2 separate regions of the Homo sapiens genome follow, and region 1 is linked to region 2. Evidence: fine-mapped expression QTL. A gene starts in region 2. The other region holds a variant in brackets. All regions are shown on one strand. Distances are between the middles of the regions.

Region 1 (5,378 bases), 70 kb before region 2:
TAATAAAACTGTTTAAATTTCCTTGTAGTCTTTTCCTGTGAACTTTAGTCTTCACAGCCTGGAGATGTCAAGCAATCCCTTGCTTTCTAAAATCACATGGTTCAACAGACACTGAAGGTCAAAGGAAGTGACATATACTAATGAAGGAACCAGACGGACCCAAACTTTTAATGAAATATCAGAAGCTATTTTGATGCTCCTACCAAATGCACTTCTCCCCTAAGGCTCACATGGAAATGCTTACCGGCTGCGCCTGGCAGCCCAGTTTCTACTGACCAATTCAAAACAACCATATTCACACAATAGTTTACCAAAGGCATCAGCATGGCTGATAACACACTTGTTACTCTAAGTTTCTCTGAGAAGGATAAAAACAGAGATAAACAATCCTCTTTCTCTCATTCCTTTACTCAACATGTCATCAACATTTATCAAAGGTCAGTGACTGTACTGCCAACATTACAAGGTGTGATGTTATGATATACACTGGTTTTTGTCCACAATTCCTGTCTTATAACTCCCATAGCCCTTGTTACAGTCTTTTGTTATAACGATCCCATATGGAAGGAAGTCACTTGTGCAGCCCACACTGAAGGAGTGAGAAGTCACGCTCCCCCTCCCTCAGGGCAGAGCTTCTATAAAAATTACTTGTAATTTTTTTTACAAGAGATTTGTCTTGTCCATCCTTTTTTTTTTTTTTGAGATGGAGTCTCACTCTGTCGCCTAGGCTGGAGTGCAGTCCTGCAATCTTGGCTCATTGCAATTTCTGCCTCCCGGGTTCAAGTGATTCTCCTGCCTCACCTCCTGAGTAGCTGGGATTATAGGCATGTACCACCATGCCTGGCTAATTTTTGTATTTTTAGTAGAGACGGGGTTTCACCATGTTGGCCAGGCTGGTCTCGAACTCCTGACCTCAAGTGATCCACCCGCCTTGGCCTCCCAAAGTGCAGGATTACAGGCATGAGCCACAGTGCCTGGACTCATTTATTGATTCAATCATTTATTTATATCGGTGTGGGCTCGAGGATATTTATTTTATTCTTTGGGTTGTGATCCAACACTGCTTTATTTTGTTGCTCACACTGTTTCAGCTTCAGCCACTGGGAACATCTTCCCTCTGCATGCCCATCTCACATCACTGTATGTATAAAGTTCTGCCTTGCTCTCTGACTCTACAAGATGCTCCAGGCTCATCTTGTATACTTTCTGCCCTAGTTTTAGAATCAGCTATTTCTCCAGCGATCCCTGGTTCGTTTTATTGGAGAATGGTGTTAGCAACCAAGATCTTGGAGCTAGGTATACATTACTCGTAAATGAAAAAAACCCACTATAATTCTCAATAGGGAAAACAGTGCTTCCTATGGAGCCCACACTCAAAAATGTTGGCACTGCCAGTGATCGCTCGGCTGGGGCTTTCAGGACGTAAATGATGCTTTCATACATATCAGTGTAAAAAGCTCTGCTCGTGAATTCTCATGTCCGCTCATTTTACACAATGAGCAAGCTGACAGGACAATACACAACTATGAGCATAATTAAGAAAGGTTTTTTTTTTTTTTCCTTTTATAGGAACACTTCGTGCTCTGATTCTGAAACCGCCTTTGCAAAATTGTAACTGAGGTGGGGAAAGAGATCTGACCTAACCAACTCCATCTTGCTTCTAACCTCCAAGCTGTCCTTGTTCATTCCTGGGTGTAGGCTCAACTAACTTTGGGAGAAACTTAGTTTAGTTTATAGTTTAAAACAAAGATGATAACAGCCCTTTCCCAAGACAAACCCCCTTCTTGTCTGGGGACTAGATTTCCTTTGTAGGACTAACAAATTAGCCTCAAGATTAGAAATTATGGTTCAGGAGTCATGTAGCTGGAAGCTACAAGATTCTGACCCTCCCTAAACTGCTCCTATGTCGGTGCTCGAGATATTTTGCAGACCTGCACTCGACGGATCAGCTGGCACCACCCAGATCGATTAACTGGCTCATCTGATCTCGTGGCCCCCACCCTGGAACTGACTTAGCACAAAAGGACACCTCAATTCCTTATGATTTCATCTCCGACCCAACCAATCAACACCCTTGACTCACTGGCCTTCCCCCTCCCACCAAATTATCCTTAAAAACTCTGATCCCCGAATGCTCAGGGAGATCGATTTGAGTACTAATAAGACTCCAGTCTCCTGCACAAGCAGCTCTGTGTACTCTTCCTCTATTGCAATTCCTGTCTTGATAAATCGGCTCTGTGTAGGCGGCGGAAGAGGTGAACCTGTTGGGCGGTTACCACCTCTGTCGTGTGTGACAGTTGTTTTGAATCTCTAATTGCTCAGTACAGATCCCACATGCAGGTTAAGTAAGATGCTTTGAAGAAAATGGAAAGTCTTAAGTGATTGCTTCCAAGAAATCAAACCTACATTTATCTAGGTAACAACGGACTTTACGTATCACAAATGAAGAGACTGACAAAGTAAATCAACTTGGCCTTTTCTTAGGTATGTCAAGTCAGTTTTTTTTTTCCTAAGGTGTTGAAATGGAAATTCTTCCATTTCACTAATTAGCATTCCTTTTTGGATGTTTCGAAAATAAAAAATAAATCTAAAATATGTAATAAACGGCAAGTACAAAAAGGGCTTGACAGAAAAATAACATGTTACTTTTACCAGATCTAACATGAACATCTTCTAAGGTAAATTCGTTTTCAGAATTTGTCTAAACTATTCTTAGGCTATTCATCTACCCCGCAACAGGACAATGTCTGCTCTGTTTTAGCTTTCTCAATAGA[T/C]TGTAAGCAAATCTCTTTGCGGCACATATTTAAAACAGAAAGACAACATTTGATCTTATCTGATGCCAGAGCCTTCTTGATCTTACGGAAGATGTGAACGAGTTTTCCTGGAACTGTAACACACTGCCATCTGGCTGATACACACTGGAAGACACCATCAATTTAAAAGTGTTATCATGATTTTAGAGGAAAATGTGGTGTGGAGAAAGGCCTGTCTTTGAATGGATGAAATAGGTTAATAAAAAACATCACTGTTTAAAAACTAGAACACTGAAAAATTCTAGGAAAGCTTATTTTCCCTTATATTTTTATGGTACTTTCAACACTTAATAACACTATTTCAATTAAGTTTTCTCCTAGAGTTTATAGTATATCAGTACATTCTTTTCTGTGGATGCAATAATATAGAATCTTATTCCAAATCTTACTGGCAGGTTCTCTTAAATTCTTCAACGGCTGCCATAGTGATTAACCAAAATTAGTTATGATTTCTGCCTATCTGTGTGAGAACTTACAGGGGAAATTGTTCTAAACCTGAGGAACATGAAGTAACTGTACTGCACACTCCAAATGATGACAGTCATTTTATATCACCTTCAATTACCCAACAGCTTTTAATAGTCTGGCCATAAGTTTCTTTGCACGAGCATTTGTTAAATAACTACCATTCAGTCAAAGAAGGTAAGGGAAGTCCTGTTTAAAGAATCCTAAGTAATCCTAATCCTAAGAATTATAAATAATTATTAATTTTATACAAGTATCAACAAAAACTTACCCAGTAGTTTGTCTATAAATTTGGTATGTACTCAAGCACACCTCAGTGTGTATGCATGTAAATGGGTAATTCCCATTTACTGGGTATTTGTGTCTAATACATGTGCACATTAGCAGGGCAGTGGAAAGGAAAGGGAAAAATTGCAAACATTCACAGGAATGCTCTACATATAAAAAATTGGTACAAATACATACAATTCTTTTTTTACAGTCAAGTTTAAATTCTTACAAACAAACTTACCTTTTCTGGAATATTTTGAGTAATAATGTCTAAATGTGATAAAACTGCTAAAAACGTACAAATGCTTGTTTTAAGATTTTCTTCACCCTGAAAAAATAATCAGATAAACAAATATTGATTCAAAGCTTACTGTGAAACATGCACGTGAAAGCGCCGTGCTGGACTCTATGAGGGCCCAGGACAGGAGGCAGCCTCTTCCCTGGAACAGCCCGGGGTCTGGGTGGGAAGGGGGCTGCGGCAACAGGCACAGGACTGAAAGCAAAGGAAATATTTCCTAGAGCCAAATGCCAGTGCACACAAAAATCAGCAGGTCACATAAAGTACTGAATAACTCAACTCTAAGTACAGCGGGGCACAGTGGCTCACGCCTATAATCCCAACACTTTGGGAGGCTGAGGCGGGTGGATCATTTCAGGCCAGGGGTTTGAGATCAGCTTGGCCAACATGGTGAAACCATGTCTACCAAAAAATACAAAAATTCGCTGGGCATGGTAGCGCACACCTGTAGTCCCAGCTACTGGGGAGGCTGAGGTAGAAGAATTGCCTGAACCCAGGGCAGAGTTTGCAGTTAGCTGAGATCGTGCCACTGCACTCCAGCATGGGCAACAGAGCAAGACCCTGTCTCAAAAAAAAACATAAAATAAAGTACAGTGTGCCCTCTGTATGCACGAGTTCTGCATCTATGAGTTCAACCAACCGTGGATGAAAAATATTTAACAAAAAATTTTTAAAACATAATGCAATTAAAAAGTAATACAAAGTTTAAAACTGTATAACAGCGATTTACATAGCATGTACATTGTACTAGACATTATAAGTAATCTAAGATTATTAAAGTATATGGGAGGATACACATCAGTTATGTGCAACTACTATGCCATTCTAAACAAAAGACTTGAGCATCCTCAGGTTTTGGCATCCGTAGGGGGCCTGGAATCAATCCCCCATGGATACCAAGGGTTGATTATCTGTGGCAGAGCCAAGGGCATGCTCACTTCAGGAGAGGTGAGGCCTTCAGGATGGGAAGGACTGGCCTGGAGAAGGAGCAGGAAGGTTAGAGAACAGATAAGTGAACAAGAACAAAGACACAGAGGCAAACTTAAGGGAAAGGCAGCAAGAGGAGACAAAGCCAGTTTGGCAGAGAGTGATGGAGATAAGGCTCAAAAGTTAAATGGAATCATACTGTAGAGGCTTTAAAAAGCTATAGCGAAAAACCTATAGAAGACTTAATCAGCTATCTTAGGGAAAATTTTTTAAGAAGACTGTTCAACTGGAATCTGGAAACCTCTGATTCCAGTTGAAAAAGACTGTTCAACTGGAATCTGAAACTATTATTATTTCATAATCATAGTGGTTTTGGAATAATACATTATTTTAGTGATAATAAACTGATAAATGCCAGACAGATTGGAAAGAAAAGAGCATATAAGCAGGAAGACCAGTTTGGAAACCAATCCAAGAGGCAAATCATTTATTATTATTTAATTCCTTTATTTAATTAACAGTTACTGAATGTCTTCTACATGACAGTTACTATAGAAACAAGTTCCTGTAACTTAAAAATCTACTGGAGAAGATAAAAATCAAAT
Region 2 (5,378 bases):
GATCACCTGAGGTGAGGAGTTTGAGGCCAGCCTGACCAACACGGTGAAACCCCGTCTCTATTAAAAATACAAAATTAGTGGGGCATGGTGGCGCATGCCTGTAATCCCAGCTACTCTGGAGGCTGAGGCAGGAGAACCGCTTGAACCCGGGAAGTGCAGGTTGCGGTGAGCGGAGATTGTGCCATTGCATTCCAGCCTGGGCAACAAGACCGAAACTCCATAAAACAAACAAACAAACAAACAAAACTGCAAAATAACAGACTCATGTAAATAAATGAATGTTTTAATTTTTGATGATTTAAAAAATGTTTTCCAGTGAAAACTCTCAGGGATGATCACACCTATCTGTGGACTGTTCAAATATTTACTCTCTAATGTTTTAAAATTACTTGAAAATATAACCTCATAACTTCAGCCAAACAAAAATCCTTTACCTGTAATAAATGGTCAGCTACCGTTGAAAAAGTAGAAATATTCTATTGAGACAATTTTGAGTCAATCTACTTTGTACTTGACAGTTTAAACCCAAATTTAACATGAGTGAAGTCAAACCAATCAACAGTAACGTAACAACTTGAAGGGAGGCCTTGCTGTTTCATTACTCTTGCACATAGTAGGGAGCAAAGCTCAAACAGTTAAAAAATAAAATCTGATTCATTCTATTAAATCAATGGCAAAAATACACTCAAAAGGTCGACTTAAGAAACATGTTTAACAAATATTAGTAAATCCTGTTCCTAATTACCAGGGGAAATTTCAGAAGAGTGTGATGGCCTCTATGACGCTTAATTCTAACACTCAACACTCAATTCACTAATTCACTGGTCAGTACAGATAAATAACAAATAATTTTTCTTTCAACTTGATAGATATCAACCGTTTCTATTGGGTTGAATCTACCATGATATAGTGCAGATTTGGGTCTGTAAAATCTTGCACGGGCTCCATTATCTTCCTAAACTATTCCAGGGGTGCTGTATTCCACCGGCTCTGGGTTAGAACGTTCCCAACCGCAGTGATTTGTGACTTCAAAGAACACCCTCGAGAAGGGGTTCCAAAGGTTTTCAGGCTTTAGGGGAGCAACGCGGAATAACCAAATTCTGCATGGATCGGAGTGACGACCCCGATAAGCTAGTTTTTAGAAGCAGGAAGACTCCCCTCTGGGGCAGCCAAGTAGGTAGCACTAGGCTGGGGGGCAAAGAGGCAGGTACCGTTTCCTTCCTGGGGCCCGCAGGTGCAGTCGGCCCCCAGCTCCGCCGACACCTCCACCGCCCTCTGCAGCAGGTAGCGCGCTCGCTTGCGCGTCAGGGCGTCCGCCTGGCCCAGCCCCGCCTGCACCGTCCTCCAGAAGCGCCAGCAGCGCCGGGCGTCCGGGCCCGCCTCGCGCGCGCCGCGGGCGCGGTCGCCGCCGGGCTCGGGCAACAGCTTCTCGGCCAGGGCGCTCAGGACCAGCAGCTTCTCCTCTACGCGGCCGGACCCCAGGGACGCCCCAGGCGCGGCCAGCCCGCCCCACACGGCCCGCAGCGCCGCCCCGCCACATTGGACCAGCACTGGCAGCAGTCGCCCGGCCACCAGCGCCGCCGCGTCCTCGGCAGGCCCGGCCTCATCCCCGTCCCCGCCCCCGCCCAGCGCCAGGGCGACGGCGGTCCCCGCCACGCGCTCCAGTAGCGGCCCGTCCTCGCGGGGCCGCAAACATGGCCCGACGGCTGCTAGCACTTCCACGGCAGCCTCGGCGCCAGGCGCGCGCCACCCGGCGAGCAGATCGCGCAGCGCCTCCTCAGCCAGCGCGGCCGCCAGCTGCGGACGCCCGGCCAGGCGGACGCACGAGCGCAGGGCCGCGCCCGCCGCCCTCAGCACGCGCCGGCGGTGGCGAGGCTGCAGACTGGGGTCCGGGCCGCCCGCGGGGCGTCCGCGCAGGCTCCGCAGCAGTGGCACGAGGTACCCTGCAGCCACCTCGCGCGCCGCCTCCGGGAGCGCGCCTGCGCCCCCGCTGCCGCGCGCCTCCTCGTCCTCGAGCCGCTGCAGAAGGAAGCGCAGCGTCTCCACGCGCTCCGCGGATGCCTCCCCTTGGCACAGCGCCCCAAGCAGGGCCCGGGGGTCCCGGCTCTGCGAGAGCAGCGCTTCCGCGAGCACCCACTCCATTTGCCGAGCGCCCGCGCCACCGGCCCGGGCTCCCAAAGGAAGGCGCCGGCGTGTGCGATGCGTGCGCACAGGACCGGCCGGCCCCTACGTGCGCGTGCGCCGACGGAGCCGGGCGCGCGGCCGCAGAGAGGGGGATCCCAGCCCGGCTTGGTGCAGCTCAGCTTCCCTTGGGTTCCTGCCACCAACCCTGCCTAGATAGAACCCACCTGGTCTCTTATTTTTAGGAGAAACGAGGCCTTCGTTAAAAGTTAATGTAGTATCTACACCAGCTTCATCGATTCCTGATTGGAGGTTGGTCTGCCCAGGACCCTAAATCAGGCGTGCCTGTGAGCATAAACCAGTTCACAGAAGGTGCACAGCAGAATCACTTTAGATTATTTTCCAAACGTTGCATGATGGGCACCATCCACAAAGAGACTGACACAGTAGGTCTGAAATTGGTTCTGGACATCTGCATTAAAAATAAGTCATGAAAACACAAGAATGATTTAGACGTAAGGCCAGGAGTGAGAAGTGTTACCGGTGGAGGGTGTCCAGGTCCAAGAATTGGACAAAGCGCACAAACAAAGCAAAGACAGAATGAAGCCACAAAAGCAGAGATTTATTGCAAAAGTACACTCCACAGGGTGGGGGCAGACCCAAGCAAGCCGCTCAAGGGGGGCTGGTTACAGAATTTTCTGGGGTTTAAATACCTATAGAGGTTTCAATTGGTTACTTGGTGTACACACTATGTAACTGAAGAGGATAAAATGAAGTTACAAAGTTATTTACTTGGTGTACTCCCTATGTAAATGAAGAGGATATTTCCTGTCATAGCTGAAGTGTTTCTATCTGATTTGGTTCTAGGGAGTTTTTGGATTCCCTGCCTCCAGGCCCTATTCTCCTGCCTTAGAGGTACCTATAGCAATGTGCTAGGATTCAGCTAAAACCAAGATGCCCACGCCAGCCCTCACAGCCAAGTGCCCAAGATGACTCCAGGATGCAGAGCCTCCTGCACAATGCATGTGCTCCCATGTGCAAACTCAAAAATAGTCCCTGTGTCTGTCTTTTCTGTATTTCTGACAGCATCCATTGCTAAATAGAGAAACAGAAAACCTCACCTCGGCATGCATGGTGTGGATTTGGTTCCTGGCTCAATTTGAGACAAACTAGATCAGTGACATAGGGTTTTCTTCGCTACTAAACACAAAGATCTGCCTCTTAGTCAATAGAGAAAACAGGGTCCCAACTTCAAAGAGCTTGACATATAATAACATAATGGATAAGACAAAAATTAGTTATTTAAATTTACAGTTATTTTTATATAAAGTTATCTGACTTTAAGGTTATCTGACATTACACAGGCAAGACTTTTTTCATATTTCAGTCATTCCGTTTTTCATTGACAAAATGCATAAATGTTTCTATTTTAAGCCCTTTTAACATGTCAGTAAATATCAATTACCTTCAACATAAAATGTGCAGAAAACTATTGTTTCTGTCAACATATATCTAACAAATATAAATGGGTAAATGTCTTGAGCACTTAACAAACGAAGATACACAAATGATAAGCACTTGGAAAAGTGTTCAACATCATTAGTCATCAGAGAAATGCAAATTAAACCCACAATGAGGTACCACTTCATACTGATGAGAATGGCTAACATGTAAAAGCTCGAAAACACTAAACGGCAAAGACCAAGGGTGTGGAGCAACTGGAATTCTCATACATTACTGGTGGGCATGAAAACGGTACAGTCACTTTAGAAACTGTTTCTCGTAAAGTTATAATATAGCTGCTTTATGATTCAGCGATTTCACCCCCAGGTAATTACCTAAAATAAATGAAAACATGTTTCAAAAAAAAAAGCTTGCAGAAGAATGTTTTTGACAACATTATTCGTTATAGCCAAAAGCTTATAACAACCTAGTAGGTGTTAGGTAACAACCTACATGTGCATCAAATTGAAGAATGAATAAAAAATTGTGATCTATCTATATAATAATGCTCCCAGCAATAAGACAATGAATTGCTAATCCGCTTTACATGGATAAGTCTCAGAAACAATATGTTAAACAAAGGAAGCCAGTCACAACGTTTACATCCTCGTGATTTCATTTATATGAAATCCAAGAAGAGACAAAAGTAATCTGAAGGATAGAAATGAGAACAGTAGTTGCATATAGGGAGTAGAGATTTGACTAGAATTGGGCACAAGGGAACTTTCTGGGGTGATGAAAATATTTTATGTTGATCAGGGTGTTGTTACACATTTGTCAAGACTCCTTGAACTGAACCCTTAAGATCTATGCATTTCGCTCTGCAGAAAGTTTACCTCAATCAGCCGGGCGCAGTGGCTCACACCTGTAATCCCAGCACTTTGGGAGGCCGAGGCCGGTGGATCATGAGGTCAGGAGATTGAGACCATCCTGGCCAACATGGTGAAACCCCATCTCTACTGAAATACAAAAAAATTAGCTGGGCATGGTGGTGCACGCCTGTAATCCCAGCTACTCGGGAGGCTGAGGCAGGAGAATTGCTTGAACCCAGGAGGCAGAGGTTGCAGTGAGCCAAGATCACACCACTGCACTCCAGCCTGGAGACAGAGTGAGACTTGGTCTCAAAAAAAAAAAAAAGAAAGTTTACCTCAATCTTGAAAAATGACTTATACCAAAAAACAAAACAAAACAAAACAAAACAAAAAAACAAGTTGGCCTATGTGTTTTATTCTCTGTTGCCTTCAGAGTAAAGCCTAACTGCAGAGCACAGCATTGAAGGCTTATTGGGATTGGGGAAAAGCCAGCTGGCCTCACAGCCTGACTCCCCCTTCTCTGCCCCAGGTCAGGCATGTGGAACTCTCCTTCTTACCCACAACATGTTTGCACTGTCTTCTCTCCCGGAATATTTCCCGCAACACCACTTTTCTGATTCACCAATGTGGGCAGCGATTCCTAATTGCCAGAGCTGCCCTTTTTCGTTCTTACCTGAATGGACTCTGTGGAGTATTTCCTATTTCTTGAAACACTATCTCACTCTGGTTTTCATCGATGACTTTGTCCTGTTCTTTCTTTTCTCTGCTTCCTCAGCTGTTTCTTCTCCCTTTCTTTCAGCATCTTATTTTTCCTCCTGACCTGTCCATAGTGATATTTCCAGGGTTTTATCTTCAGGTCTCTCTTCTCCTCACTCTGTAAATTTTCTCTGAATAACTTCATTAACACTATAGATCTGATTACCATTTACATGCTAATGATGA

Evidence for each region.
Region 1: its variant is fine-mapped to the expression of TARBP1 in whole blood (TOPMed, PIP above 0.99).

The regions. Positions count from the first base shown.
Region 1 is chr1:234,406,656-234,412,033 of GRCh38, forward strand. TARBP1 (tRNA guanosine 2 -O-methyltransferase TARBP1) reads right to left here. Exons shown (of 30, transcript NM_005646.4): 23 at 3,790-3,876. Among named protein-coding and RNA genes, the nearest start is that of COA6-AS1, 36 kb to the left of the region's middle. The variant T/C (reference allele first, on the strand shown) is at 2,775.
Region 2 is chr1:234,476,962-234,482,339 of GRCh38, forward strand. TARBP1 (tRNA guanosine 2 -O-methyltransferase TARBP1) reads right to left here and starts at 2,218. Exons shown (of 30, transcript NM_005646.4): 1 at 1,212-2,218. The coding sequence starts at 2,142. RefSeq lists silencers at 1,315-2,114, 2,145-2,334.